Linked DNA regions of Homo sapiens: regions 1 and 2 are each linked to region 3. The links come from fine-mapping of genetic effects on gene expression. A gene starts in region 3. Each other region holds a variant in brackets. All regions are shown on one strand. Distances are from middle to middle.

The links.
Region 1: its variant is fine-mapped to the expression of DIPK1A in thyroid (GTEx, PIP 0.98).
Region 2: its variant is fine-mapped to the expression of DIPK1A in aorta (GTEx, PIP above 0.99). The same link has a PIP of 0.9 or more in coronary artery, fibroblasts, tibial artery and tibial nerve.

The regions. Positions count from the first base shown.
Region 1 is chr1:92,995,422-93,006,418 of GRCh38, forward strand. No RefSeq gene overlaps it. Among named protein-coding and RNA genes, the nearest start is that of DIPK1A, 39 kb to the left of the region's middle. RefSeq lists an enhancer at 4,931-5,225. The variant C/G (reference allele first, on the strand shown) is at 5,424.
Region 2 is chr1:92,929,722-92,940,718 of GRCh38, forward strand. The region is part of intron 1 of DIPK1A (divergent protein kinase domain 1A); the gene reads right to left. It also overlaps the pseudogene MND1P1. Among named protein-coding and RNA genes, the nearest start is that of DIPK1A, 26 kb to the right of the region's middle. The variant G/A (reference allele first, on the strand shown) is at 5,071.
Region 3 is chr1:92,956,190-92,967,186 of GRCh38, forward strand. DIPK1A (divergent protein kinase domain 1A) reads right to left here and starts at 5,273. Exons shown (of 5, transcript NM_001006605.5): 1 at 5,187-5,273. The coding sequence starts at 5,240. RefSeq lists an enhancer at 853-952 and silencers at 4,834-5,393, 5,554-5,633.

The sequences.
Region 1 (10,997 bases), 39 kb after region 3:
GATCAAATTGAGGAATGGGTTGACATGACTGGGAGGTCACATAAAGGAGAGAGGACCTTACTTTTGCTTGAGGAATGGAGAAGATGTGTTTAGAGGAAAGGCATAAGAGGCGAGGGAGTGGGTATAGCCTCTCCCTTCTCAACAGTCTACTGCTGTGCTCCCGTCTCCTAGAATGTCTCCGGCCCTCTCCCTGCCCCACCATAATATTGCTTAATAAGGAAGTAAGATTACTGGGCAAACAAGCCACTGCTGCATAGGCAGGAAAGTAAACTTTGTTTCTGATGTGACCATGTAATCTTTCCTACCTTTAATCTCCAGTACCATGCCAAAGCAAAATACTTTGGTGAGTGGTGCTCAAACCCAGGATTTAGTTTTAAGCCTGTCCTAGTGCACAGGCTCAAATTGAGCAAATGTGTCTTCTGCCATCCATGTGGAGCGTTTTGACTCCTTCCTTAGCCCTGTGGTATTCTGGGAGGTTAGGCTCGCTGCTTAGAGAATTATGTTGTGGATTAAAACCAGACCAGGTGGAAGGGAAGCCTGTGACAAACAAAAGCCATGACCTTCTCTGAGGTAATTATAGATAAACTCAGATTTTGCATAATTTCTTGGCTCTGCTGTATCAGGAGCTTGCTAAAGTCTTGTGTTTTTTACTTAGTCATTTCTTCTGTCCCAGGGATGGGGGTTGGGAGAAGCTTTGGGATTGCTGTGGAAGGAAGAAGGTGCAAGTCTCAGACACTCTGGAAGGGTCGGGGTAAGTACAAGGATATTAGCAAGTTTAGCCTGGTGACTTCTAGATCCTCTGCCTGGAATGAGATCTTTGCATAGGCGAACTGGAGGACTCTAGGCTGTCAAGGCCAGTCACAAGCCACAGGTGCCTATTTTATAGCACGTACTTCCCTGCTTTCCCCAGGTGCCCATCATCCAGCAGATTTGTCTATAGATCATGGTATTATCTCCATTGCTTCTGAATCATTGAGTGTTTTTCCTGAGTCAGGATGCATTTATGAGGGCCACTTAATTTCTTTACTGTCAGTCACTTAATCATTTTTATTATTTATTACTAAACCTTTGCCTGAGTTTTTCTTCACTTCCTGGGTTTGTTTTTGTTTGTTTGTTTTTGAGACGGAGTCTCGCTCTGTCCCCCAGGCTGGAGTGCAATGGCGTGATCTTGGCTCACTGCAACATCCACCTCCCGGGTTCAAGCGATTCTCCTGCCTTGCCCACCGAGTAGCTGGGATTACAGGCGCACGCCACCATGCCCAGCTAATTTTTGTACTTTTAGTAGAGACTGGGTTTCACCACGTTGGCCAGGCTGGTCTCAAACTCCTGACCTCAAGTGATCTGCCTGCCTCGGCCTCCCAAAGTTCTGGGATTACAGGTGTGTGCCACAGCTCCTGGCCAAAATAGTTTTTCTTAACTACATTTATTCTGATTAATTATCTATATTTTTTCTGCCATCGGCCTTATTGAAAAAAAAATACTTTTTTAGAGGCATATAATGCCAACATATTTTCCTTTTTGGAATTCTTTTTGCTCTATTAAAGAGGTTTTTAATAAATTAATTTCATCAGGCAGTTTTAATTCTGTTTACTATTCATAAGCATGGGAACTGATTAATATTCGGGGTTTCCCTTTTTCTATCCAAGTCCCTTTCTAACCATTAGGTCATGACAGTTTGCCAAGCAAAAAATCAAAAGGGCTACTGCAAAACACATTACTACTGAGATTTGCCTGAAATGTTTGAATAGTGTTAAATGGTGCCATGGACACTGCAGATACCACTGCTTTTCTTATGATTCTTAATTTTAGGATTAAGACATCATGCGACTCATCTATTGCCAGGAACTTTAGTTATTAGGTTCCCATAAACCCAGAGAATCCTATTTCTCTTCTTGGTGATATATAAAACAGAACTTTAGGTGCCCACAAAACCATGGCTTCTTCACTCACTTTTCCCCTACAAAATGAGTTCAAAAGAAAGGCGAATGCAAAGTATATATTCTGCCAGGCATTATGCCATTTATTTTATATATGAAGTCTCACATAATCCTCACAATAATCTCATTGTGCATATTTGACAAATGAGAAAATTGAGGCTTGGAGTAGTTAGTAACTTAACCAAAATCACACAACTGGCAAGTTGGCAGGGTGAGATCCAAACATAGACCTGCCTAACTTCAAGGTCTGGGCTATTCTACTAGATACAGCACTCAGAAAAAGACAAGGGTTCCTTATGTCAGCTGGGCAAGAAGTGATCAGTAAATATTTTATCCAGGTGCCCATAAAAATTAGAGGCCAATGCAAAGGAAGGAATTACAAATTATAAACAAGATCAATAGAAATTAGGGAGATACAGATTTCACAGGTCATGGCAGAAACTAGGTGAGCTCTGGGGGTGGGAGGTGGCGTTTGTAACAGGCTAGGGAGGAGCATGTGGGCAGAGAATGAGGTCCTGTCAGGACATAGTCAGAGAACTGTCTGTTCATCCCATCCTGCTGCCTTTAAATGGGTGTGGCCTGCCTGTGCAACACCTTCCAAAGAAGTGTATGAACATCTCCCAGGTATCAGTTTCTGTGAGATTAATCCTGCTACCCTACTCAATCTTGCTACCCCAGATCTCCCTCCTCTCACTCTGTCCACCTTGACCAGTACTGAGCCCCTTTGTCCTGATGACCCATTTGGACACACTTCTCTGGTTTAGACTGGCTCTCGATTTTGGCCACAGTTGTAGAATTTGCCTTCCACTCTATAGCCTCCAGGCCTGCAAAGAGATAGCCCTGCTTCTGGGTCTGCCTTCCATTTGCCTAAAGGAGTCAGGCCAATCTCCCCGCATGGAAAAGGGGTCTGACCCAGGTCTGACCAGGTATATGAGAGTCAGGTCAGAAGTCAGGCAAATAAGTGAGAGCTGGAAAAGCCATGTTATCAAAGCAAGAAATTAAGCGAATGAACAGTCAGGAATGACCATGGAACCCCCAGTACTGTGAGTGACCCAAGGAAAAGTTTTTGAGGAATTATATGGACTTTGGAACCCTGTAACTTGACTGTTAAAGATGAACAGGAATTAGTTTTCACAAATTGGTTTTAATAAAACTTATTTTCATACATCTTGGCTGATTTGCTTTGTGGTGGGAGGAGTTAATGTCAGTGTACTAAGTTGTCCATAGAGAGATTTTCTGAGGTTGCTGGTGGAAGTTTAAAGCAAATAAAAGAAAATGTACCCAAACCCTGTCTGTGTGAGCATCTCTGACACAAGACATATGGAGTGAGCTGTGTTGTATGTAACTGGCCAGTTACGTACATGGCACCTATAAGTCCTGGAGAGCCATACAGCCAGGGGATGAAGCCAGGCAAAATGACTCTAGCTTTGGTCCAAAATTTGATCCCAACTCTCTTTTGGTCTCCTGCTCCGCTGAGCTGTGCTGGAAATCATAGAAACTACAGAAGTCTCCTTTATCTTTCTGCTCTAATAGGAGAGCCAGGCCCAAGCTTTTCCCTCTAGGTCTCCCCTTTGCTGGACCTCACCCCTGTCATCAGCCCCTTCCCTGACCGTCATCTGACTCCCAGGCCTTCCAAGGGCAAAGGAGCCATGGCAACCTGCAGGCCATCTCGCCACACAGCTGCCTACGGTGTCAAGAGAGAGCAGTGTGAGGCTACCCAAAAGGGAGCTGAGAGCCAGAGGGTGAGTCCCTTTGCTTCTCCCATAAACAGATGTCTAAATGACATGGAGATGCCCAACAAGTCTAGTGGGATGGGAACTCGTGGAATTCCTAAGTACCCCTAGACACTCCCCAGAGACTTCTAGAAACACTGCTGTGGAGTTGGGAGGGAGAACACTGTAGTGGGGTAGTCATGAATAGGTGGGGATCATCGCCTCACAAAATGTGTATAAAAATGCTCATTTGTACTTACAGGCTAGAGGCCTGTGGATATTCAGATTTCATGAAAGAAATGGAAGATATTTGCGGGCTTTTCTCAACTTTTCTTTTTAGAGAGAATTTTGCTCTGTCACCCAGGCTGGAGTGCAGTGGCGCCATCATAGCTCACTGCAGCCTTGAACTCCTGGGCTCAAGTCATCCTCCCATCTTGGCCTCCTGAGTAGCTAGGACCACAGTGTGAACCACCACACTCGGCGATTTTTTGTGTGTGTGTGGTAAAGATGAGGTCTTGCTATGTTGCCTAGCCTAGTCTTGAACTCCTGGCCTCAAGTGATCCTCCTGTCTGGGCCTCCCAAAGTGCTGAGATTACAGGCATAAGCCTGGCCCTTCCTCAACTTTTCGAATTGAGTTCATGTAAAGGAGGGACAGAGGAACTTTGTTAATTTCATCAGCCCTACGGAGTAATACCACTAGTCACAATTATAAAAAGTGAAAACCCCACTTATTTCCACCTCATGTGGCAATATTCCAAAGAATCTTGAAATCGCGCTGATCCATTTCAACTTGACCCAATTCTCTATGCATATGATATGACATTCTCCACTTTCATACCCAGAAGTAAGAGTTTTTCTAGTTTAAAATAATAAAGATAGAGAGATTTACGAATGGTTAGGTTTCTAAGTTCTAGGTAGCAATTTCCTCTTCTAGAAAAATAAGTTCTAGTGGTATTTACCTGTGTTTCTTAAAGGGTTGTACTTTTTTAAATGGGATTAATATATTAAGGGTGTTCATATATAGTACTAATATGAATACATTAGACCTGTGCTTCTTAGGAATTTCACAGAAATTTCACAATCATTAAGGTCACTTTTCTATTTCTCCCTCTTCATTTTCCTTCATTCTCCATCACCTCTCTTGCCCTTAAATGATTATAACTTAGAATTGGATTTTTTGAATTAATTTTGCTTCTGTTAAGTAGAATTTCCTGTTCCCTACTTTTAATTTTTAAAGTTAAAGACTAAATTAAGTTGCCTTTTGCTTCTTAGGCTTTTTACTGTAACTTCTTTGTTGCTCTTGAACTTCGATAGTTAAAGTGTTCAGAAACCAAGCTTTCCCAGAAACCAAGCTTTCCCAAGCTCTTCATGCAGCCTCCCTGCCCCCACCCTCTCAGTGTTGTTTTCCCTTTCTCAAGGGGAAGACTGTCCTAGGAGGGGCTGCGGGGCAGAGACAGACTGCAGGAGGAAGAGGAAAGGGGAGAAGGGATAGCATTCCACTTTGTTTGTATCCACCTCACAACCTGCTGTTGACCTGCCTACATGATTAGTCTCAGGCTGCAGTTTGGCCCAAGACAATATTTGATAAAGAACCTTCTAAGTAGAGAAGAAAGTACTTGATTTAACTTGGAGGCAAATATTCTATTTAAGAAAATAGATGGAATTTATATGCACTTAAAAATGCTGTGACATTTTTGGGAATTGCTGGGCTCAAATAGCTTTCTGGAGTTAGGAAACCAAAAAACCTGCCAGATGACATTTTTGCTCAAGGAAG[C/G]GAGGAGGTATAGAAGAGAAGAATTTGGATTCTCAGCTGAATGTCTGGCTTAGCTGTTAAGCCTCTCTGGCTGAGAATGTGCTTTCTCGCTTCTGTTTTTGGTGTAGTGCCAAGAGAACTATCAGACCACAAATAATCATTGTTAACTTCAGTGGAAACCAGAGCTATTAAGAAAAATATTAAAAGCCTGTTCCAGGATTATAACATTTTAGAGAGCAAAGAAATAAGATACCTGACTAACCTGTTTTATTGGGTTGTAAATGGAAAATGTCCTGACCAGCTGGGTTTTAAGCAAGAATGACATTTTTTCCATATGATTTGTCATGGATTTTAAAAAGACGATGTGCTTAGAAAAACAAATTTGCTGTAACTTGGCTAGTGGGCAAAATAACCGGCAGAAAGCTTGATAACTCAAATTCATGATACAGCAGAAATAATTTTGTTATTTGGCCAGGATGGCCCAGTCCTGATATGCTTAAGCTTCAGAGAGTTGCCTATGTTGTCTTTGCAGAAAACAATCCACATTTGTGCAGGATGCAAACTGAATTCCTTTGAACTTCACTGTAAAATCCACATTTCTCAAAATGTATTTTAGAAGATTTTGCTAAACGATTGGCAAAAGCTACAGATACCAAAAAGTTATTTTCATTGGAATTTACAACTAAATATCCTGAGTAACAGATAAGCATGGGTGAAGGTCTTACTAAGACCATAAATAGGTGAGGTGTTGAATGTTAATTAGCTTGATGTAACCATTTCACAATGTATACATATATTGAAGCATTACATGGTACAACATAAATATATATATAACTTTTATTTGTCAACTCCTTAAATTTTTTTTTAAAGGGGAGATGTATGGAGGGGCTTCCTCCAACAGTTGGGGAACAACTTCACACATTTTCCTTCTTCCATTTTTGTTTCCCAATTAGAATATTTAAAATCTTACCCTTGGCTGGGTGTGGTGGCTCATGCTTGTAATCCCAGCATTTTGGGAGGCCAAGGTGGGAGGATTTCTTGAGCCCAGGCGTTCGAGACCAGCCTCAGCAACATAGTGGGACCCCCATCTCTATTATTAAAGATAAATAAATAAAATAAAATTGTAACCCAATGCAGGCCAAGAAGTGACACTTTGAATTGTAAATTTGGTTGACTATGTTTGGTTGAGTTTGACTGAGTTTGGTTGACTTCTGTTTGCCACTTCAGCTCCATTTTCCATTCTTTGTTCCACACTTCCACCTGGAGGTTGGTCTGAACACACCACACTGTAGCTTCCAAGTCCTCTGGCTTCTGGTTGGGGTTGACCAGTGGGGATTTGGGGCACTGGACTGATGAAAGGGAGGAAAATGAGTCAGGAAGAATTTTTACTCCTTGGCTTCTTCCCTGTGAGTCCCTTGACCAAGGATTACAGCTTCTATCCAGGTGACCTTCTCCATGTGACTACCTCCTTCTGGCGTCTGGTGACTGCTCCCTCCCCTCGTCACTGGGGCCGAGGGTTATCCTTTGTGGTTCCCCTATACCCTGCCCACGTCTCTATAAGCAACCCTTTGTAAATAAATCCAATTAGAATGATTCTAAGTTAAGTGTGTCATCTGATTCCTGCTAGTCTTATAATTCTGCAAGTCTTATCACCGTCCTCTAAGGATATTCTAAGATACTCATGGGATAAGAAGCCAGGGACTGACCACACTCTCAATGGAATCTAATACAATGTCCCAGCCCGTTGCTGAACCCCATCTGCCAGTGCTTATTGTGCAGTGCCCAATCTCAGAGCCTTGCCCTCACCCCTGCTCCACCAGCCTGCCAATCACCATGTCCCCCACCTCCCTCTATTCCCATTCCCACCTCTGTGACCCAAAGCACCATGGTCTCCCAATATCTACTTCAGAAGCCTGCCCACTCGCCCTCTGTGCCCCCTCTTAAAAACATCCCATATTACAAAGTGCTCTTTCTATACTGTGAATCTCGTCTTGTCATGTAGACATTGCTTAATAAATAAATGTTAAGTGAGGGAACAAGTGATGTTCCTTTTAGGCTTAAAATCTCTCCATGGCTTCCTACTGCACTTAGGCTAAAGCCCAATAGTGTGACCAGGCTTGTAAGGCTTGCAAGACCCTGGAAGATCCACCTCCTGCTGCCTCATCTCACACAACTTCCCCTCTTGCTCTCTGCTCCACGCACACTGGCCTCCTTTTAGTTCCTGGAGTGAGCTGGGCTTTCTCTGGCCTCAAAGCTTCTCACCAGTATCCCTTGTGCTAGAAATTTTCTACTCATCTCCTTTTCACTCATCCTTTAGGTCCCAGCTTAAATGTCATTTGCTCAGAGAAACCTTAGCTAACTCCCCTCCCATCCCCCAGACAAGACCAAGTTGCCCTATTCATCCCTTTTGCAACATATATCCCAATCACGATTAACTATGTGAATTGTCACTTAACGTCTGACAAGTCTAATATGTCTCTCTACTGCTTGCCTGGATGGCTGAAATACCTTCCTAACCAGTTTCCAGGTTTCCACTCTTGCTACCTCCCCGTGTTCGGTTTTCCACATGGCTGCCAGAATGAGCTTTTAAAAACATAAATAAGCCGGGTCTGGTGGCTCATGCCTGTAATCCCAGCATTTTGGGAGGCTGAGGCAGGAGGATCGCTTGAGGCTGGGAGCTCGACACCAGCGTGGGCAACATAGCAAAACCCCATCCCTACAAAATAAATATCTAAAAAATTAGCCAGGCATGGTGGCAGGCACCTGTAGTCCCAGCTACTCAGGAGGCTGAGGCAGGAGGATCGCTTGAGCCCAAGAGTTTGAGATTGCAATGAGCTATGATTGTGACACTGCACTCCAGCCTGGCTCACAGAGTGAGACCCTGTCTCTAATAAATAAATAAATAAATAAATAAATACGTACAATTTTAGTTTTTTTTTTTTGTGATGGAGTCTCGCTCTGTCACCCAGCCTGGAGTGCAGTGGGGTGATCTCAGCTCACTGCAACCTCCATCTCCCGGGTTCAAGCGATTCTCCTGCCTGAGCCTCCTGAGTAGCTGGGACTACAGGTTCATGCTACCATGCCCAGCTAATTTTTATATTTTGAGTAGAGACAGGGTTTCACCTCGTTGGCCATGATGGTCTTGATCTCTTGACCTCGTGATCCACTCATCTTGGCCTCCTAAAGTGCTGGGATTACAGGCGTGAGCCACCATGCCCAGCCCTAAATTTAAAAAATAAAAATAAAAACAGAAATGGATCATGTCACCTCCTGGCTCAAGACCCTCTGAGAGCTTTCCATACACAGAGTAAAACCCCAGCCCTGCGCCCTGGCCTGCTGCACCTGCTGCGCCTGCTGATCTGCTGCTTGACTCCCTCTCAGTCCTCATCCCAGAGTGCTAGACCTCACACATTCTGGCTTCTTCTGTTCCTCCAACTTCTGCCCCTCACCGTCATACCTACCATCTTCCTCCTATTTCTCTTTTAAAGTTTTGTCTCTGAAATTTCTAATGTGGTGAATAGTTTATGATGTGCTCATGGATACCATGTGCATTTACTTTTCCAATGCCCTATGTCCTATTCTCTTGTTAACTGCACTCCCCTTCTTTAGCTGATCCTCTCCTATGCCAATTCATTTTTTTAAAATCGAGGTATAATTTACACATAAAAGCTGTACATAGTTAATATATACACCTTGAAGAGTCTGAAGATAAGTATACAACTGTTTAAGAGTCACTATAGACAATGCCATAAACATCACCATCACCCCTAAGATTCCTCCTCACTCTCTCTTTTTGCACCCTTTGGCTGACACCTCCGCATTTATATTTCCCCTTTACCCAGCTCCTGGGAAGCACCATTCTGCTCTATGCTTCTGTGAGTTTGACTGTTTTGGATTCCTGACGTAAGTGAGTCTCACTCCAATCTTCATACTGCCTCCCACTCCCCCAGTGGGCATGTGACCCAAGCCTGATCAGTCTAGGCTCCCATTCCCCGGTGCTTTTCTTCTCTTCCATCAGAGAAGACATTGAAACCCTCGTACTTTATTATGCATATTCTTAGAGACTGTCACCCTGAGAGAAAGTAGACAAACCCTTAAATTAAGCAATACATAAGTAAGGTGTTCCTAAATGCTTCAAATTAATGTATTTATTCAACATTTATTGAGCACTTTCACGCTACCTACCTATTGTTCTCAGAACTGGGGAAGCTTATGGCAATGAACAAAGCAGACAAAAATCCCTACCCTGAACACTTCTACAGCTGTCAATATCAGCCATGTGATTACTAAAATTCTGAGTGCTGAAAGGGGGTGCAGAGCACTTACTGTATCCATCAAAGACTTTGTGATCAAACAAGTTTTACCACAGATTTTGCAGATTCTGAGACTAATCTACTCAACAAAGCATATTAAAAATGCAAGCTATTAATAGAAAGAGACATTAAAATTCTATTTTTTCAAAGAGCTCAATCACTCTGCTGGTTAGAGATAATATGTAATCAGTTCTGAATCTAAAATGACTCTGGAAAGTCAAGAGAAGCCACAAGGTCATGCTCACATCTTTCCTCTCCAGAGAGTTTCAGAACATCAGCACTGTATTAAAAATAAAATGGTTTAAAAAAAAGGAGAGAGAAATAGAGAGAAATTCTAGAACTAGGAACTGAAAGTGCAAGAATATGAGTTTGGTATTGCAGAGAAAAAAAGGTTAAGCTTTTCGATCAGTTTAATACAGTAAAAGCCTTCTTAGCAGTGATTTATTTCTATTTTTGTGATTGATTTTATTTTTATATTATTTTATTTAGTGAGGAATAATTAAGAAAATAAGTAAGCGAATAAAGAAAAAAAATCTGTTATATTCCTACCACTCAAAATTAACTGCTGTTAATATTTTGGCATATTTGCTTCCAAGTCCTTTTTGATGTTCCTACTATTTTTAAAAACATTGCTATTTTTAAAAACATTTGATGTTCCTACTATTTTTAAAAACATTCTGTCTCACTGTCTCTCTCCATCTTTTTGTCTCTGTCTCTGTCTCTCTCTCTCTCTGCCTATGTATGTACATATTTGTGCACACATATACTTCTTTAAAAAATATTGGAACATTAAGTTAATGCTAAAGTATCTTTTGAATGTTATCCCTCTTGGTTCCCAGAAGTAATCATTATTTTAATTTTTTTTTTTTTTTTGATACAGGGTCTCACTCTCTTACCCAGGCTGGAGTGTAGAGGCACAATCATGGCTCATTGCAGCCTCCACCTCCTGAGCTCAAGTGATCCTCCTGCCTCAGCCTCCCAAGTAGCTGGGACTACAGATGTGCACCATCATGCCCAGTGAATTTATTTATTTATTTATTGAGACTGAGTCTTACTCTGGCGCTCAGGCTGGAGTGCAGTGGCACAATCTCGGCTCACTGCAACCTCCACCTCCCAGGTTCAAGCGATTCTCTGCCTCAGCCTCCCAAGTAGATGGGACTACAGGCGTGTGCCACCACGCCTGGCTAATTTTTGTATTTTCAGTAGAGACAGGGTTTTACCATGTCGGCCAAGCTGGTCTCAGGCTCCTGACCTCAAGTGATCCACCTACCTTGACTTCCAA
Region 2 (10,997 bases), 26 kb before region 3:
AGGTTAGTGTGAGTAATCTATTATGTCATCACCAGCAGCTGAAATAATCAATGTTGTTTTGATTCAGTGTCTCACACTGGGTGAATTTTTTTGATTCTTCATCCACCTTCCAGAGGTTCATCTTCATCCTGGCTGACTTTCCAAGTTGTCACAAGATGGAACCAGCAGCTTTCAGAGCTACATGCTTCCATCTTCAAAACCAGAGAAGGAAGAAAGAGTTAAGCCAACAAACGTGGTCCTGGGCTTCACTCCAACTAAATAAATTTTTAGAAAACATAACCACCCTTGAACCAAGCACTGTGGCCAGTAGAATGCTATGAGCTGACTGGCTTAGGCTTGGGTCACTGGTCATCTTCTCCCTCTAGCCTTATTCCTTGTTTCTGACTCCCTGAAGGCCTACAACCCCACTTACAGGTCCTTGTTGCTTTTGTAAGCCAGGGGAGTGATGCTGTTGAATACTCTTCCTCAAAAGCATGGCCTTTTGTGGCTCCCAATTTTAAACACACAGGTCAATTGCAATTCTCTGACTCTCAGAAGCCTAAAGTCTTTTCTCCTCACCTCATATAGCCCTTAAAACTATGGTTCCCACTCCCCATTGGCCATTTTGGCTTTAGCTCTCTTTCATATCTGAGTTTGAGTTTTCTTGTCATTTCTGGTATCTGGAGATTTCCTTTGCTTGCTTTCAAACTTAATTAGGTAGTAATAAAAAAAAACTGAGAAAGGGAGCTTATATTTTATCCAGCATTTCTATGTATTTGCAGAAGACAAAAAGAGGAATCTTCTCATATTAACTAAATCCACCATCAGTAACTCTCCTTAGCCTTCAGGATATAGAACCAATTCTAATTCATTTAACACAGAGGGCCCTTCAAGGTATTATTTACCCTCTTAGTTTCATGACCTGAATACCCCCAAACGCAATCTTTTCTTTTGCGAAGGAAAGAACTTTTTGTAGTTCTCTGTTCATGCCATGCTGTTTCTTCTTTCTATGCCTTTTCTGATACTGTTTACTCTATACAGAATATTATCTCAAGGTGCCCATGCCCTCACACACAAATTTTGATCTAGTCAACTGATACTCATTCTAAAAGTCTCCAATAAACATGGCTTCTTAAAAGCCTTTTCTGTCTCTCCCTCCCCTATACCAACTAAGACTAAGATGGTCCCTTCCTGGGGTCCTGTAACACTCTATACACACTTCTGAAATACAAATATCACTCCAATTGTTGACTTACTTTTCCCACTAGACTACACTCCTTGAAAGAAATATGTCTTATGTAATTGATTACTTCTAGTACTTCATTCTTTGCTTGGCACATATTAGATATTTGACAAATGTTTGTTGAATGAATGGAGAGACAGATTCTTTTTTCTTATTTTTTTAAATTAATAGATTTATTATTTAGAGCATTTTTTTTTGGTTTACAGAAAAACTGAACAGAAAGTACAAAGTTCTCATATAATTGGCAAAACCTGGAAGTAACCAAGATGTCCTTCAGTAGGTGGATGATACATAAACTGCGGTACATCAGACAATGGACAATTATTTAGCAATAAAAAGAAATGAGCTGGCCCCTCACCCCATGTGCAGACCCCATCATTGGAAGGCCTGGTGCCCACACCGTATCAAAGAAAAAAGGACTGAGTGCAGAAGAAAAGAGAGCCTGCATGATGGAAACATTTTTTAAAACAAAAGATGTATTTCAATTAAAAGACATGGAGAAGGCCAGGTGCGGTGGCTCATGCTTGCAATAGTAGCACTTTGGGAGGTTGATGCAGGAGGACTGCTTGAGGCCAGGAGTTCAAGATCAATCTGGCCAACATAGCGAGATGCCATCTCTTGAAAAAAAAAAAAAAAAAGACATGGAGAGGACTGCTCCCAAAGAGAAAGGCATTACTGCTGTGTTAGTAAAAGAAAAAAGTCCTTCAAAGTTTAGTTGATAATGATATGGTTGACTGTGAGAGAACTGGAACTTCTAATTATTATCAGTCTTTTCCAAGTAAAATTCTTCATGCAAGAACGTATAAATTGGAGGTTCTGAAATCTCAGTTGTTTCAGGGAAGCCAAAAGCATGCAAACTTACAGAAAAGCATCAGAAAAACTAAAATTGGCCAACATGAGATGAAGGAGTGAACCGTGTTAGCCAAAGAGCATTCTTCACTCTTGGATCAAAGGCAGAAGTTGAAAAATGCAAATAATGTGACCCGCAAGTTGTTGAAGAAATACATCAGGCAAATAAAGTACTTGCTAACAGATAGACTGATAACATATTTGCAATAAAATCTTGGGCCAAAAGAAAATTTGGGTTTGAAGAAAATAAAATTGATAAAACTTTCGGAATTCCAGAAGACTCTGACTACATAGATTAAAATATACCAGGGTGGTAAAGAATCTACGAGCTCGCAAATATGTAAATTTTTAAATATTATCCAACTAGGCTGGGCACAGTGGCTCATGCCTGTAATCCCAGCACTTTGGGAGGCCGAGGCGGGCAGATAACTTGAGGTCAGGAGTTCGAGACCAGTCTGACCAACGTGGTGAAACCCCATCTCTACCAAACATACAAAAATTAGCCAGGTGTGGTGGCACATGCCTGTAGTCCTAGCTACTCGGGAGGCTGAGGTAGGATAATCACTTAAACCTGCGAGGCAGAGGTTGCAGTGAGCTGAGATCACGCCACTGCACTCCAGCCTGGGCAACACAGCGAGACTCTGTCTCAAAAAAAAAAATTAAAAATTTTAAAAATCTTATCCAACTAAATGTACTGAACTGTCTTTTACCTGTAACAGTGTTTATCATTTTATTAAAGTATAAAATGTAAAAAAGAGAAAGAAATGAACCATCAAGCCATGAAAAGATGTAGAGAAATCTTAAATGTGTATTCCTTTTGTAGTCATTTTAAGATTTTAGAAAATTATTTGTCAGACATACCCTACCTGATTAAATGTGTATTCCTAAGTGAAAGAAGCCAATCTGAAAAGGCTACATACATACTGTGGAATTCCAACTACATAATATTCTAGAAAAGACAATGGTAAAAACATCTGTGGTTGCTAAGGGTTGGAGGGATGAACAGGTGGAGCACCGAGGATTTTTAGGGCAGTGAAACTACTCTGATTGATAACATAATGGTGAACACATGCCATTATACACTTGTCAAAACCCAAAGAATGTACATCAAGAGTAAACCCTAATGTAAACTAAGGGCTTCAGGAGATAATGATGTGTCAGTGTAGGTTTGTCAATTGTAACATATGTACCACTCTGGTGAGGGATGTTGATAGTGGAGGAGGCTGTACATGTGTGGGGCAGAGGGGTATATGACAATGCTCTGCTTAATTTTGCCGCAAATTTTAAATTGCTCTAAAAATTAAAGTATATTTTTTAAAATATGAAAGAGCTAAACATACATCTCAAGAAGAAGAAAAGGAACAGAAAAACAAACAAAAACCCCCAAAACCCAAGAAGTAGAAGGAAAGAAATAATAAAGATAGAAACTAATGAAACAGAACATAACTTAAAATAAAAATCAACAGAACTAAAACTTTGTTCCTTTGAAAAGTTCTAAGAAGAAACTGAAAAGGTGAATAGTTTCTATACCTAAAAACTACAGAAGGAAGAAGTATCAGGGAGGCAGGCATGGTCAATAGTATATAATGCCATAACAAAGTAAAGTAAAATTCATATTGAAAACTGCCCAGTGGGGTGGTTCCCATCTATAATCTCAACACTTTGGGAGGCCAAGGCAGGAAGACTGCTTGAGGCCAGGAGTTTGAGACCAGCCTGGGCAATATAGCAAGACCCTGTTTCTTAAAAAAAGGAAAAGAAAACTGCCCAATCTAACAATGAGGACATCACTGATATCTTGGGCAAGAATAATTTAAGTGGAATGGAATGAAGTAGAACAAGTTTCTAAAAGGAAAAAAAAATCCCGGATGTGTTGACATTAATGCTGACCTATATCTGCAAGAAGCTAGATTTGATTTATCTTTATCTTTGCACAGTGCCTCACATATCGCTGCTTGCAACACTATTTGCTGAATTAATTCAGTTGGATGGAAAAGAAAGGACCACACATAAAGGGCTTTAAATGCTTGACAGTATTGAGACTTAAATGAAGAAGTTTTAAGATTTCTAAACAGATATACAGTCTGATGTTTAAAGAAGATTAATCTGGATGTTAGCTTAAGACTTTTAAAGGTAATACTGAGGAAAGGGAGACTAGTTAGGAAGTTGTTGCAGCAATCTAGGCCCTTCTGGATTAGGATAGGCCAACAGCAGTGAAGATAAAGGGTGAAATTTGAGAGACATTATGAAAGTAAACTTCTTAGGATTTGTCAACAAATGGATATGAAAGTTAGAAGAAAAAGATGTTAAAGGTATGAAAGACTGAAAAACTTTAGATAATAAAAAATGAAGGTCAGTGGTAACACACACTGGCATTTTAACTAAATGCAACCTCAACTTGATCTATTTCTATGGTTTAAGAAATTCAGGTATTTAATTTTCAGCATACAACTTTTGGTCACAAAATAAATTTTCTTGAACAAATGAATGTTAAATCTAGATGTAAACTGAGATCTTTATAAATGAATTTAAAAAGTGGAGAATTTATTCAAATTCAAATACTTTTATATTTATTTCCAGAAGGCAAGATAATGGGACAGTTTTGAAATATCTAGTAGAATATGCCAATTTTCCATAAAAGTTTTTTTTTCTTAACAGTTTAAATCTAGGAGACTAGTTTAAAATCAAAAAGTTATGCATGAGAAAAGCTAAAATGACAAATCTGGATATGTATATCAGAAGTTTTCTATTTGTGGAAACACACATACTTGCATAGTTCAAATGTATTTCCTGAGTCAGCATATACTGGAAGGTTTCTCACCTTCCTCTTTTCATCTTATTTTGGCTCACCTTCTCCCTCAAAACATCTTGAAACATAGATACTATGGAAACAAATGAAAATGATCTATCTCTGAAAGCATTCAGAATCAAATAGCTCAGCATTCCTCTTCTTTTTCACTAAACTGTGCTCTGCACCACAAAATTAAACAGACATCCCTAGG[G/A]ATACAGATTTGCCAAGAGAGTTCCTGGCAAAAATAAAACCTGGCCCTTCTCCAGACTGCTATACATGGACAACAATGGAAGTTCTACAGATGGAGATTGATTGCTGGCTGGCTGGCGGGCCTGTGGTTACTTACTAGCGTCAAGATGAAGAATATTAGGCACAGATCATTTTCATGTCCAAAGACTTCTGACAACAAATGTGCTCTGCCTGACTTCTCACATTCAGCAACAGTGAGAGTTATTTACTGAAGAGATAGTTCTAATTCTAGCTCTATTCCTTTATGTATCAGACAAGCAAACTGAAGCCCAGCGAAGGTGGGTCATTTGCTCAGAATCATACAGCTAGTTGGTGACAGGACAAAACACAGGTCTTGAGATTCCCAGTTCAATATTTCCACCTCTCTATTGAGCAACACTACTGTCTAAATAATACTAAAAAGAACGTGTTGCTCACATCTTAAACTCTTTTAATCTAAGTCATTTCATAACTTGACATTCCCGTTCAGTGTTTTGCTAGAAATTGCAATATACTTTTATTTTGTGAGATACTATATATTAATATAACAGTTTTTTAAAGAACTATGTATTTTAAGTCCCAGAGTCACCAAAATAAAATGAGATTAGAAATGGTTTTAAAACTATTAAAACACAATTAATAAATTCTGAATCTTTAAACTTGGGGAGATTCTTTAAAAATTACGGCTCAATATATTTAAAAGCAGAGAGGGGTACTGGAATCAAGGTCACAAGACCAGGATTTAAGTGCTATCCCTGCTACTGACTAGCTGCGTGACCTGAACATGTTTCGTCCTTATCTATAAAATCAACAGGGTCAATCAGGGTCACTGAAATTAGTTTTATCATTTAAAATACAGTTCCAGACAACTCAAGGATAAGATCTTTATGTTATCCTTATTATATTATAACGTGTTCAAGTAACTGAGCAAAAAAAAAAAATCCCTCACTATTCTATAACTAACTAACTAAAGACATTAAAACACAGGAAATGGCTGGGCATGGTGGCTCATGTCTGTAATCCCAGCACTTTGGAAGGCTGAGGCGGGAGGATCAGGAGTTCACGACCAGCCTGGGTAACAAAGCGAGACCCTGTCTCTACAAAAAATAGGAAGATAAAAATTAGCCAGGCTGGAACATCTACTCTGGTGGCTGGAACAGCTACTCAGGTGTCTGAGGTGGGATGATCGATCACCTGGGCCCAAGAGTTCAAGGCTGCAATGAGCTATGATCACGCCACTGCATTCCAGCCTGGGCGACAGAGAGAGACTTCATCTCAAAAAGAAAAACAAAAGAACAACAATAAGAACAACAAAAAAACCTCACAGGAAACATCATCTCTACTATAAAAAAGCTGTAGATTTGGCTCTGCATAGAGTCAGCAAGAAAAACAATGTCAGAAAAATGCAGTACAGAGTTGAAGTTATGGAAATCTGGATCACATCTTTCTGCATTCATTTAACTAAATAGGCAGCTTTGAAAACCTAAGTATAGTTTTTCTGAAGGGAAAACAGAAGAACATAAAAGAAGCTCAGAGAAACTGGGCATGGTGGCTCACGCCTGTAATCCCAACACTTTGGGAGGCCGAGGCAGGCAGATCACCCGAGGTCGGGAGTTTGAGACCAGCCTGACCAACATGGAGAAACCCCCAACTCTACTAAAAATACAAAAATTAGCCAGGCATGGTGGTGCATGCCTATAATCCCAGGTACTCAGGAGGCTGAGGCAGAAGAATTGCTTGAACCCGGGACGCTGAGGTTGCGATGGGCCGAGATCACACCACTGCACTCCAGCCTGGGCAACAAGAGCGAAACTCCGTCTCAAAAAAAAAAAAAAGAAAAGAAAAAGAAGAAAGAAAGAAGCTCAGAGAAGCTGTTTTAGTCCAGTTCTGCCAGACCCTCCATAGCAAGTACCACGCAGCACTATCAGACATCAAGACCCTTTATCTATTGCTTTATTGAGTGCTGTTATACATGGTCCTGGATGATGAAGTTTGATCCTGTTTAATACACAGGTCATTTAGATCTTTGGTGAAAACTGTAAATCAACTGTAAAAACAACTTTTACTTTTGCTTTTCTACTACTTGAGACAACTGTGAATTCACAAAGATATAGATACCCTTACATGCAATTCACTGTTCATTCACTCTATGGAAATCCAAAAAGCATAAACATAGTCCCTGTACCCACTAGCTACCAAGAGTTTACAATTGAATAGGATCATGAGTTTTACTATGTAATAAATTCTTACCAGTTTTATGTCCAATTTAATTGCACTTAAGTCCTTTGTCTCTTAACAGATGTAAAACAGAAAAATTAATTTGTAAGGTACTAGAAAAAAGGATTAAGGAATCATAAAGAGCTAATCCAAGGCTGGGCATGGTGGCTCATATCTGTAATCCCAGCACTTTGGGAGGCTGAAGCGGGCAGATTACCTGAGGTCAGGAGTTTGAGACCAGCCTGGCCAACATGAAGCCCTGTCTCTACTAAAAAATATTAAAAAAAAATAGCCGGGCATGGTGACTTCTTCCTAGCACATTAACTGGTGACTAACCTATCATAAATACCTTGCAAGTATTACTTCACAGATACTGCATGATATACTTCTATCTAACTTTTGCAGATGTGACTTTCAATTTGTGGGGATCACAACAGAAATCCCCACATGCTTTATTTTTTACAGACTAAATGGTGATCCGGAAAGAAAAAGAGGCTCTGACACATCTTTCAGCCTCCTTTTGGGCTAGGATTGGAATTCATTCTAGTGGTGAATGAACCAACTATTGCCAAAGTTGCTTTTTTGGACAATGCTGCTTTTTAAAAAATCTCAGTACCAGGTCATTTGAATATCTAATTGGAAAAAATACATGTATCTTTAACTGTAATTATACCATATACAAAAATCAATTCCTAACTGACTGCAGATCTAGCATGCTGGTAAAATGGTGTTCCTTGAGCATAAATGTACATTTCAATATTCATGTTATACTTTAATGAAAAGTTAAGGACTACTTTTTCTTGCTACTTAAGGTTCTGGCCTTTCACATAAAAAGCCAGCACCCCGATCTTGGATAAATACCAAAGTATACTGTAAAGGCTAGTAATGAAACTGGTTTTAAGCTAACTACAGATTAACCTTTACCCCAGGTCACAGCTTCACAGAATTAGGAACCTAATAATAGTCTGGCAGAACAAATTTGTTCTTTTCTGATTTAAAAAATTAAAAAGGCATTAGAAATGAACGATTTTCAAGTAAAAATGTAACTGCAGCCTGGGCAACGTGGTGAAACCTTGTCTCTACAATACATACAAAAATTAGCCAGGCATGGTGGTGCACACCTGTAGTCCCAGCTACTCAGGAGGCTGAGCCAGAAGAATTAGCCAGGCATGGTGGTGCACACCTGTAGTCCCAGCTACTCAGGAGGCTGAGCCAGAAGAATTAGCCAGGCATGGTGGTGCACACCTGTAATCCCAGCTACTTGGGAGGCTGAGCCAGGAGAATTAGCCAGCCATGGTGGTGCATACTTGTAGTCCCAGCTAGTCTGGAGGCTGAGGTGAGGCTGAGGTGGGAGGATCACCTAAGCCCAGGGAGGTCAAAGCTGCAATGAGCTGTGATCACACCACTGCACTCCAGCCTGGGCAACAGAGCGAGACCTTTACTAAAAAAAAAAAAAAAAAAAAAGTTGATTCCTCTAAGGCAACTCATAAACATATACCAAAGACAGACAATTAATCTGAAAGGAGAAACTAGCCATTTCACTAATTTGACTTCAAAAAATTCTAAAAATAGCAAGAGTCCAACATAGAAAGCCATAATGTATTTTTGGAAAGTCATTCAAAAATGTATAATTTTTGGATATATCATTTTATGAGCAGGCTAAAGAATTCCTCTTTCAATAATGAATTAATTCTCCCAGAATTGTTATTAGGGAGGTAAGAAAAAACTGTCCTATCAATCATCACCTCACTGGTAAATGAAAAAAATAAGGGTCAGAAGGACAAAGGAGCTTGACACAAGTCAAATCATATACTTGAAATCTCATGCTAAAGCATATTATTCACCTTAAAGTTGGATAATGTCAGAATTCTTTCTACTTTTATCATTTATTTTTTAGACGGAGTCCTGCTCTGTCACCCAGGCTGGAGGCAGTGGTGTGATCTCGGCTCACTGCAACCTCTGCATCTCGGATTTAAGTGATTCTCCTGCCTCAGCCTCACAAGTAGCTGGGATTACAGGCGCCCGCCACCACGCCTGGCTAATTTTTCGTATTTTTAGCAGAGACGGGGCTTCACCATGTTGGACAGACTGGTCTCGAACTCCTGACCTCAGGTGATCTGCCCACCTCGGCCTCTCAAAGTGCTGGGATTACAGGTGTGAGTCACCACGCCTGGCCTTCCATTTTTCTTTAAATTCAAAATTACTTCAATAAAAATACTTGCTACATAAGACATTTATAACCAAATACTATCATTTTGTACACTGAATTTCTATCACCTTTGGGGAGGGAAGTCTACATAACCGAATGACTTTTACATTCACTGGGTAGATCTAGCTATAGGCCATTTTTGCATTAGTCTAATTTAATAGGATATATTTTAGGTTAATTAATCTTCAGGGATACAAATTTCTTAATAGAGCAGTCAGCAGTATTTTTAAAAATTAACCAAAACATTCCTAAATCATGTGAAGTAATACATTAGCAAGACTAAAATACCTCACTTCTGCTTCTATTTGTAGACTTCAAAGCTTAACCCTCTGCTTCCCCACCTTCCCATATGCCCCCTTCCACCCAATGATACCCCTTTCCTCCCACATTCTTCTCTGTCAACTAAAAAATGATCATAGAAAATTTACATTTATCAGGGCTGGAAGCAGTAGCTCATGCTTGTAATCCCAGCACTTTGGGAGGCCAAGGCAGGAAGATCACTTGAGGTCAGGAATTTAAGACCAGCCTGGCCAACATAGTGAAACCCTGTTTCTAACAAAAAACACAAAAATTAGCCAGTGGTGGCCCATGCCTGTAATCCCAGCTACTGAGGAGGCTGAGGCAGGAGAATCACTTGAACCCGGGAGGAAGAGGTTGCCGTGAGTTGAGATCACGCCACTGCACTCCAGCCTAGGCGACAGAGTGAGACCCTGTCTCAAAAAAAAAACAACTATATTTATCAAATGACTGAAATTCATTTATACTATAACTAATCCTTTAAGTACCTGTATATTAAGCTGGCTAATGGTGAAATGGAAGGCTTAATCCCCCATTTAAGAAGACTGGGACAGCATCATCAAGCATATATAGAGATTTTCCATACATGGGGAGCTAGAAATAGGAAATCTGAAATCATGCATTACCTAAAGGTAAACCTGATGTAGTCCTTTCAGGGTGATTTCTGGGAGTAGAGATGAGTGTCCGACATCACTCTGCCCTACCCAACACAGACTGCTAAAAACACAACTCTCCCCTGACTTGCCTTTCCTTTTTCTCTCTTGCCTGTTTAGAACATGGCTATTGAACACATCTGTCCGAGCACATCCCTTGACCTTGATTTAAAAATAGGCATTTAAAGCCAATAACATCATCTTAACATAGTACAACACTTCTTTTTCTTACTCTTACTAGTGCCATATTTTATGTGATTATCATTTAATTAAGGGACTTTTGGTACTACAATTCTACCCCTTAACAGACAAATGCCAAGTTCCTTAATATTTCAACTACCTCTGATATTTAAGATTCTGATTTCTTAAAAGGCATTCTTTTGGAATGTAGCCCTTTCAGCAATGGAGGTATTATGGTTTTAAACTCTAGCATTTTTGTTTGTGGATCCCACAAATAATTTGAAAACTATATACCCCCTTGCATATTTTTAAGTTGACATCTACAATTTTTCACCATAAGTTTAAATAGTTGCA
Region 3 (10,997 bases):
TAACTTAAAAAAAAAATCTGAGGCACTGAGAAGACTACAGTGAAGAAACACTTTTACTGTATGGTCCAGTTTGAAAGAAATGTGGTAAGGATGCAATCTGCCTGAGAATTCACCATTTCTTTGAGCTTCTAACAAAGGTTCAAAAGCAACTAATGGTAATATCAAGTGGCTCTCTGTACACATACCAGTCTCAGAAAGCTAATCATAGTTCTGGAGATTAAATTTCAGGCAAAGGCAAAAGCTAATCTCTGAACAGCAGGTCTAATAAAGTTAATGAGAACTATACAAACTACAGATCTTCTCCCTCTATTGTCTTTGGAGGATAGAGAACAACCATAGGCTCTAATTATCCTTAGATTTAAAATAATCCTGGAGACTGAAAATGGGCAAAAAGCCCATTTTTACTACAGTATTTGGCAACATTACTACTATTACCAATTAATCTGTATCAGTAACCCTGTCTGGCACTAAATCTCACAAAATATCCACATTAACTCATAAGGAACCAAACCATCCACAGCAGTCATGTTTGAAAAATTGTACTAATACGAGCCAAAGTGCCAGGTATCAGAAATGTTAAACAAGTGCAAACACCCTAGCTAGAACATGCCATCTACCCATTCACTCATAACAACCCTACTGAACACATACTGAAATTGCTAGGGCAGTCATTTTCAAGAGGATACTTCTAAAACTTTAAGCCCCTTACAAGCAAAACGGCTTGAAAACCTTCAAAGGACCCAAGTACATGGGACTTCAAATTCCATTAGAACTGCACCAACTTTTCATATGCAACAGAACACATAGGCAGAATGATTGGAATGGAAAATGTGTATAATCTAAGTACAGAGAATTATGCTGAATTGTCTTGACTTTCATTCTTTCAGGACTTAACGATGGTGAGAAGGAAGAAGGTATTTTAAACCAAAACCAACAAATTATAGGGTTGCTGTGTTATCAGCTTCACTCAGACTATGAGTAAACCCTAAACAAAGTAGATCTTAGTTTGTAGAAAACACACTGCTAAAAAAAGACAAATGCAGGTGTCATTCTGGGTTATCACACCCAAGCAGGCCACAAGTAGTATGCACCATAATGGCACGTGGAAGAAAATACTGCCTAAAAATGGTTTAAGCAGTTAATACATCCACAGTTTCTGATCTCAGAGGCAGGATTCTACTCTGTTCAATGTGCTGCATCATTTAGCCAGTCCAGGAAGTGTTATTTCCCAAGTAATGTTTCAACAAAATATCTGGAAAACATGGAACTGTAAATTAGCTTGCTTGCTCTGGGCAAGATGCCTTGCCATGAGAAGCTTGTTGCTCAGGTAAACGTCTGTTGGCCCTTCCAGGCAGGTCACAAGTCCTTCTAGCCCACAGAGAGGCTGCACAGACTAACAGTGTGCCTGCCCAGCTCCCCTGGAAGAAGTGCTCCCTGCACCAAAAAGCTGACCTTGGTGGAATCTGCAGCAAAAGGCAGAGAGAAGAAGGACGACTTTCATGAGATAAACTCGGTTCATTTATTTTTCAACTGTTTTATGGAGATATACTAATAATTCACATATCCTACAATTTATTCATTTAAAGCATAACGTTCAGTAGGTTTTAGTATATTCACATACTTGGGCAACCATCACCACTATCAATTTTAGAACATTTCTGTCCCCCTCAAGAACACTTCATATCCATCAGTAGTTACTCCCCATTTCCCCCCAGGCAACCACTAATCTATCTTTTTGTCTTTATAGATTTGCCCATTCTGGACATCTCATATGAATGAAATAATACGTGATCTTTTGTGACTAGTTTCATATATTTAATGTTTTTAAGGTTCATCCATGTTACAGTGTGTATCAGAACTTCATTTCACTTTATTGCTGAATAATATTCTGTTGTATGCATATACCACACAAGTTCTTTTCTTCACAGGCAGTAGAATCTCTTCTGCTATATAAGCAAAGCTATAAACAGTGAATAGGTGCCTGCATTAGCTCATGAATGTCTATTATGGCTGAAAATATATCATTAATTGTGTAATGCCACAGTTTTCCAAAAGCGTTACCAAATGCCACAGTGATATCTGGATTAATAAAAATACTGAGAATGAAGTTCCTTTACAAGTAAGCTGACTGCTTAAAAGTTTTCTCCTGTACACTGCAGAAAAAAGGGAACTCACAGCTCCTAAGGCCTGAACACCTCAGGACATAACTGGTCTTTGACCCCATCCAGTTAAAGACAAACAGCATAACTGCAAGTATACAAAGCTGGTCTCTGCAACCTTTCTCTCCTCTTCCTGGCCCTCCATCTCTTCCCTCTATCTGTGAAATAAATCCAACTTCTTCCTGTACTCTTACCCTTCCCCTCCCCCCAAACAGAACAAGATCTCTTATACCTGCTGAATAGTTATACCCTCACTCTAAATTAAAATAATACATTCATTCACAGGAAAAGTTACTTAAACCAGACATCTGTATTCTAAGACATTCTTTCAAAACATGAAATCAAACTAGTTTCCCTCATAAGAATTTGTGGCATGAATGAGCTGATAAGAGGAGGGTTTTTTGTTTTGCTTTTTGCAGAGAGACCCATCCAAATCACAGTAAACTCACTCCATGGCAAATCAAATTTAGTTAGTAATCTCAGGTTGATGCATATCTAGAAAGGGGTGGGAAAAATAAATTGTTATTAACTTTGTTAGGCATGATAATGGTATTATGATTATGTCTGAAAATATCTTTATCTATTAGAAATGTATATTGAGGTACTGAGATGAAATGATGTGATGCCTGAGGTTTACTTTAAAATACTTTGGTTCAGCCAGGCTTGATGGCTCATGCCTGTAATCCCATCACTTTGGGAGGTCAAGGCAGGAGGACTGCTTGAGCCCAGGAGTTTGAGACTAGCCTGGGCAACACGGCGAAACTCCGTGTCTACAAAAATTAAAAAAATTAGCTGGGCATGGTGGTGTGCGCCTGTAGTCCCAGCTTCTCAGGAGGCTGAGGTGAAAGGATTACCTGAGCCTGGAAAGTCCAGGCTGCAGTGAGCCCAGATGGCACCACTGCACTCCAGCCTGGGCAACAGAAGGAGACCCGTCTCTAAATAAATAAATAAATGAATAAATAAATAAATAAGTTTGGTTGGAAGAGGGAGTGGGGGAGGTGAAATGAAATAAAATACTGATGAGGGTGGCTGATGGGCATATGACAGTTCATTATTGTTTTCTGTTTTCTGAAGGTATACAAATTTCCACAGTAAAACACTTTTTTTTTTTTTTTTTTTTTGAGACGGAGTCGCACTCTGTCGCCCAGGCTGGAATGCAGTGGCACGATCACGGCTCACCACAAGCTCTGCCTCCCAAGTTCACGCCATTCTCCTGCCTCAGCCTCCCGAGTAGCTGGGACTACAGGCGCCCGCCACCACGCCCGGCTAATATTTTGTATTTTTAGTAGAGACGGGGTTTCACCGTGTTAGCCAGGATGGTCTCGATCTCCTGACCTCGTGATCCGCCCGCCTCGGCCTCCCAAAGTGCATGAGCCACTGCGCCTGGCCGTTTTTTTGTTTTTGTTTTTGTTTTTAAGAGGCAAGGTCTCACTCTGTTGCCCAGGCTGGAGTGCAGTGGCGTGATCTCAGCTCACTGCAATCTCCGCTCCGGGGCTCAAGCCATACTCCCACTTCAGCCTCCCGGAGTAGCTGGGACCACAGGCACCCAACCAACTTTTTTTTTTTTTTTTTTTTTTTTGTATTTTTAGTAGAGGCGGGGTTTCACAATGTTGCCCAGGCTGGTCTCAAACTCCAGAGCTCAAGGAATCAGCCCGCCTCGGCCTCCCAAGTGCCGGGATTACACGTGTGAGCCATCGCGCCTGGCCGGTAAGCTTTTTTTTAAACTCACATAAAAGATTACACAGAGGTACCTGGCCTGGGTTGAATTCTAGAAGGGGTTGTGACAGTGTTACTCAAGTGCACAATTACTATTGGTGGTGCTTGCTACAAAGACTCAGTTTTATTCGTACACGCTTAATATCATGGGTTGTCAAATCATGCTTCCAATTTGCAATACGTCACTCATTTCAGGGTAATGACTTACACATACAATTTTCAAACAAAAATGTAAGATTTACTTGCCTCATGATGGTTACCTTCTCAACTTTTTTCATAATTTATAAAAGCACCAGCTGACCCCAAATCATCTACCTCTTGGCCTTTTAATGTAAGCGGTAAAGGAATACTGTCCTCTGAATGCAGCGTTGGCTAACACTGCTGACCCACGCAAGGCATTGATTTGTAGTTGTTTTTCCATCGGAGTGATGGATTTGCGCTCAGCTACTCGCGGTGTCTACTAGGTCCCCCTGGTGACCAAACAGTACACTTAGGCAGTAGTAGGGTTCCAAGGCACAGACTGGCAGCGGAACAGAGGGTGGAACGGGAAATCATGAAAAATTAACACGCGAACCGTACACACGACATGACTGAGAATTACGTTTGCATTACTAGGGTATTTGGGATCCACAGACCAGCCACTAGCCCCTTTCCTTTAAAAAGCAAACACCCATCCGCCTGGTTCAGGCTTATCGGTCTCCACCTCCCATTTAAATCTTGGGTGTGATGGAACGACCCAACCAAGGGGCTCGGCACGAGGCACACGCTGCTTTTTGGAGCCTGGGGAAACACTGGTGTGACAAATTGTCATAATTTTCTAAGACACGGAGGAATGCTACACCACCTTTCCTACCACCGACTTAAGACCCAAGACACTGAGTCAAGGGCAACCGACCTGCGGGGGCCCACGGGGGAGGGGGGAAAGCCCCGAAAACACCAGGGAGAAGGCGGCCCGTCGAGCTCCGCCTGGAGCGGCGCAGGGCTGCGGGCAATGCCCGGAGCGCGGGGTCGTACCCAGGTCACGTCTCGGGGCTCTCAGGATGCGAGGGCGTACCCGGGCGGGACGACTCGGGCCCTGGAGCCCGGCTGGCCGCGGCGCGGGAGCCGCGAGGGCCGCGGTGGGGGGCGTCGGCAGAGCCGCTGAGGGGGCTGGGGAGGGCGCGCCGCCAGGTGCCGGACGGCAGGGGGCAGCGGGGTTCGGGCGGGCACAGACCCAGGGAGGGAGGAGGGGAGCGGGCGAGTCCTGCGCGGCGCGGCAGGGCACACGGCCGGGTGCTCCCGCAGCTGGTGGCTGGGCGGCCGCCGGCCTACCTGGAGGTAATAGGGTTTCCTTAGCCAGGCCCCCGGACAGAGACTCCTCGCCATGGTAATCACACATCGCCCCGCCGCGCTGCAGTCAGAGGCGGACCCGAGCGCTGGCGGCCGGGCTCCCCGCCTCCCCCCGCCTCCCCGCCCCCTGCCCGGCCGGGCCCGCCCACTCCCCCGCCCCCGCCGCGGCGCGCGCCGCGCTCCCCTCGGCCCGGCTGCAGTGAAGGCGGCGAGAGGCCAGAGGCCCAGCCTCCTGCCCTGTTCGCCCGCCGGCCGCCGCGGCTGTCAGAGAGGCTGCTGCCGACTCCGCCATAAAGGGGAGTCGCACCTCGCCTCCGCCGACACAAATCGACTGCGCCTGGAGCTTAAAGGGGAGGCGCGCGGAGGCGGGAGGGGGCGCCGCGGCAGCGGGGGTGTCGCACGCTCGGCGCGGATTGGGGCGTGCTTCTCGCTGGCTGATGCGGCGACCCCCGGACCGCGCTGGCCTCGCAGTCTGCTCCGGCTTCCGGCTCCCCGCGCTGCGCCCAGCTGCGCGTCCCGCCACCCGCCCCGGCAGCACCGACGCTCCCCATGGACTCTTCTCCTGGAGTCAGGACGTGTCTGGACGGGTTGTTTGGAAATTCAAGGGAAGCTTGGGGCTCCTTCCCTGGGGACTGGCTCGTCCTCCCTCGCCCTTGGTGGCGGTCGGGGGAAGGGGGTGTCTGCCGCAGCTGGAGACGCAGACCGGGGCATCCCCCCAGGACTGGGCTCAGCTTCGAACGCGGACAGGGCGCCCCACTGCTGAACTCGGTGCCCCCCTTACCACGCTCCAGTTCGCCTCTAACGGCCTACAACTTTTTTTAAAAATGTACTTTTAAAAAATTCCGACTTTTTTGGTTTATATTGTTTTTAAGACAGCTTCAGAGTTTTCCTGGCCCCGTCCAGGAACACTGATTTCAAAAGAAAACAAAAACAAAAACACCGAATTAAATACAGTCCTGAAGGCAGGGAGCCTGGGACGTGGCCTGCTGCTTGGTTAAGGCTACATAACACAGGGTGTGGTGTCTTTCTTTTGACAATGAGTTCCAAATAAGGGAAAAAAGAGCCACCCTAGTGGGAGAACAGCTGTTGATCCAAGTGACTTGTAATGGAAGAAGCAGCTTTTTTTTTTTTTTTTTTTTTTTTGGCTGCTTTTTACCCCACCTACCACGTTTAAGCGTGATGCTAACAAAGTTTAGGTGGCCCGTTAGAGCTCATTCCGGCCTGTTGCTCTGAGAAGGGGTTTCCCCAGAAGCAAACCATTACTCATTCTCACTTGGTTTTTGCATAAGCCTTGTTCAGGTGCCTTGTTCTGAAGAGATACCTTCATGTCTGCCCCTTCCCTCAACCCACACACAGACACAGGTTTTAAACCTAGGTGATTTTTGTTGTGGTGGTTGTTCTTTCTGTTTTTGAGAGGGGTCTTACCATGTTGCCTAGGCTGGACTCAAACTCCTGGGCTGAAGCCATCCTCCCATGTAGCTGGAACTACAGCTACTTGGTCTTATTTTATTGCTTGCAGATAAACCAATTTTTCATTGATTTTGTTTGGGTCAAGAGACAGTAATTTCTGAGTAAGATAAGGATGAATCCTAGTGGTTTCATTCATTCATTTAATAAAGATTTATGAGTACCCAGGCACCATTCAAGTTGTTTCGGTTACATAAACAAAACAGACAAAAATCCTTGCGCTTGTGGATGTGAGAGAGAGGGGCAATAAATAATAAATGTAATCAATAAAATCAAATTGGATAAGAATGCTAATAAAGGTTATGGGGAAAACACCAAGGGAGATGGGGAAGACTACAAATAGAGGAAGTTTGAGGCAAAAGAGGAGTTCAGTTTTGGAGAAGTTCCATTTTAAGGTATCTATTAGAAATTGAAGTGGAGATCTTGATTAGGCAGTTGTATGTATGAATGAGTCTAGGATTAAGGAGCGTGGTCCAAGCTAGAGGTATATGAGAGATATCAGCATTTAGATGGCGTTTAAAGCCATGAGACTGCCTAAGATCACCAAGGAAGTGAGTGTAAATAAAAGACGACTGAGGATGGAGCTCTGGGGACCAATGCAGCTTTAAGACAGGGTAGTGGGTGAGCCAGCCAAGGAGACTGAAAGGGAGCAGCCAGTGAAGTGGGAGACCCGAGTGAGGTGCCCTGAAGCCGAGTGAAGCTTGTGGATCTAGGAAGAGGGAGTGCTCCTCTGCGAGTGAGCACTGAGAATTGACTGTTGGATTTAGTGACATGGAGGCCATTGATAACCCTTCAGTGGAGCAATAGAGGAAAAACTTGATTGGAGTGGTTTTAAGAAAAAAATGAGAGGAGAGAAACTGGAGGTGGCTAATACAAACAATTCTTTTGAGAAGTTCTCTTACAAAGGGGAGCCCAAATCTGGGACAGTAGAAGCAGAGTCAAAAGAAGATTGAAAAAAAATGGGGAGAGGCCAAGCACAGGAGGTCAAGGCTGTAGTGAGCTATGATCGCATCAGTGCACTCCATCCTGGGTGACAGAGTGAGACCCTGTTTCTTTAAAAAAAAAAAAAAAGAGAGAAAGAAGGTGGTAGGGGGAGAAATACTTGTTTTTAATGGGAATGATCCGGAAGAAAAGGGAAAATTCATGTAGAAACAAGAAGTGAGAAGTGCTGGAGTGGTGTCCTTGAGAGGGAAAAAGCGTTTGAAAACTAACACACAAGTGGAAGGATCATTTGTAGACGAGTACAGACTGTTGATCTATGGAAACAGGCAGGCAGGTGGGTAGGCATGGTAAATAGGAATCTTTGGAAGTTCTCTTCTGATTGCTTCAATTTTCTTAGAGATGTAGAAAGAAATGCTATCAGCTGGGAGGAGATGGGAAAGATTATGTGAAAAGGGAAGAGAAGGTGTGAAATGTCATCTAGGAGAATGAGAAGACAATGGACCAGAGAATAATTGTGTGCTTGTTGAGTGTCATGTAGGGCCCACTTCAGTTTATGGTCATGAATTTAAGTGAGACAAGTTAGTATGAGTGTGCTTCTTTCTCCAGCAATAATTAGCTCCTAGGAAGCAGGTCCAGAGTAGGCTGAAATTCTGTTTAATCACATTTTACTAAAGGAACAAGAGCAAGGAGAGGAGAACAAGGAAGTTGAGGATATAAGCAAGGGCATGATTATGATTCACCATGGAACTTAAGATGATTAAGGAGGGAAGAGTGGATATGGAGAGTTTAAGGACAGTGAAAAGGTGGTAGGATCAATGAATTGCAAGTCCTTCTGGGGTTGAGGGGTTGTAGGAGTCTAGGGAAAAGAGAGAATGATCTGGAAAGATAGGAGGTATGTAATAGTCTGAGGCTGGGCATAGTGTCACATGTCTGTAAACCCAGTACTTTGGGAGGCTGGGACGGGAGGATCATTTGAGGCTAGGAGCGCAAGACCAGCCTGAGCAACATAGTGAGATCCCATTCCTATAGAAAATTTAAAAATTAGCCAAGCATGGCTAAAAACCCCAAAAAACTGTCACAAAACTCTTTAGTGTGATGTGCACCTGTAGTCCCAGCTACTCCGGAGGCTGAAGCAGGAGGATCCCTTGAGACCAGGAGGTGGAGGTTGCAACAAGCCATGATCGTTCCATATATTCCAACCTGGGCAACAGAGTGAGACACTGTCTCTAAATATATATCTATATTGCAAGTCTGACTCCATTTTTTATATGTGCTGACAGCTTTGAAGCCCTGCCACTCCTGTTTCCTCTGTGCAAACATAAGAAAGCCTAGATGCCTTTGATGCCAGCAGGAAGTTCAAACCGTGCAAGACCCAGCCCATGTGAGAGAGCCCTCACCGTGGTCCTACCCCTTAACCACCATGACATCCTAAGATAGTCTCCTTTCTTTGCTCCCTTAAGCCATTTTTGAACCAGTTTGGGAGCCTGCCCTGCTCTCCCCAGAAAGCTGCAGTATGTGAATAAACCTTTTCACACCCTCTTGGTGCAAGTGTAACATCATCAGTCTCAACGTCCAAATTAAATTTTAGGTGGAGGAGCCCATCTGGCTTCTGCAGGGTGACCACAACAATGTGGTAATTTTAGTGGGATCCATGAAATTGAGACTATGGAGGAGTGATTAAACCTAGGGTGGGATGCCACCATGGCAGTGAATGGCTAAGGGATGTGGAGGCAGGATCATTGGAAGAGAGTCAAGGACAGACTGTCATACAGATTATATGCATGCGTATTAAAAACAGTAAGACTTAGGACAGGAGGTGCTGGGGAAGATGTCAGTAGCAAAAGCTAAAGTCCTTGATAAGACAGTGATCTGTGAGTGAGTAGGTGAGGAATGAGGAAGGTGAGTGACAACATCAGAGGACATGAGTTTTAAGATAATGGGCAGGGGCAGGAATTAGAGAGGAAGCAGGAAGAATATCTTAAAAGAAGCATGGAAGAGCCCTCTCCTACCTCCCACTTCAGTGGTATGAGGGCGCTGGGAAGGCTGCAGGGACAACAGCATCCACAGGGATGAGCCAGGTTGGTGTTAGGACAAGAAGGTGCAGGAGATATTTAGAGAAGCGTTGGAGGACATAGAGGATTTTGCTGATGATAGACAGAGGGCACAGTGGAAAAGCCTCAAAAACTGGGGAGTCTTGAGAAGAGTTCAGAATAGGTGATGTGAAGAGCCTTGAGAGGGTCAGGTGAGAAGTGAGGGAGGCATGGTGGTCTGGTGTTTCTCACGGTAAAAGATATAAACAAGGATACCAAGGACAAAATTTGAACCAAATGAGAAGAAATGGTTATTCGGGTTTCCTTTTAGAGTCACCCAAGACTAAATGAAATTAATGTTTTATTTGAATGGAGAAAAGTAGTTTAGAAGATTTTCATTTCCAACTTGAGTTGCTTCCCTTGTCTTCACATGCCCCAGGACCCTTGCCCTCCAGGGCCCATCCTGAGGACCTTGCATACAGGTGGGTACGGTGAGCCCTTGTACCACTGAACTTGCAGTTTGGCTATAAATCCACTTGGATGAGTCCCAAGATGGATCCAAGCACGTTGGCCTTGGCAAATTTAGGCAAGATCCTTTCTGCCTCTGGTCTGATGTTCTCCTGAACTCTCACTGCAGAGGCCTGGCCAGCCTTTATGTCATATACTGGACCTACTTTACAAACATCCAAATGTACTTGTGCTGGTGCCTGTTCTTATGGCACTTAAAAATTTAAGTTTTTCTAAGTAAAAGCTAGCTAATCCAAAACTAATTCATATGGTTATGTTCAGAGGTGCTAATTTGTGGCCTCTTAGTCATCATATGTAATGTAACTTTGGCCTTCCAGAGACAAAGAAATTACTCCAGTGGGTTCCAGTACAGGAAAATCAAGATCGGTGGTCTTTGAACTTTCTTGTTTGCACATTCTCAAAAGAATTTTGAAAAAGATATGAATTCTCTGATGTTTTATATCAACATCCAAAATTTTTATCATAAAATTAAACAATTGTAAAGGAAGTAATTTTCAGTTTTGTGTTGTAAATATTGGCATTTAAAAATAAAACTGTGGCTGGGCGCGGTGGCTCATGCCTGTAATCCCAGCACTTTGGGAGGCCGAGGCAGGTGGATCACGAGGTCAGGAGTTCAAGACCAGCCTGGCCAAGATGGTGAAACCCCATCTCTACTAAAAAATACAAAAATTAGCTAGGCGTGGTGGCGGGTGCCTGTAATCCCAGCTACTCGGGAGGCTGAGGCAGAGAATTGCTTGAAATTGGGAGGCGGAGTTTGCAGTGAGCCGAGATCACACCACTGCACACCAGCCTGGGCGACAGAGCGAGACTCCATCTAAAAAAAAAA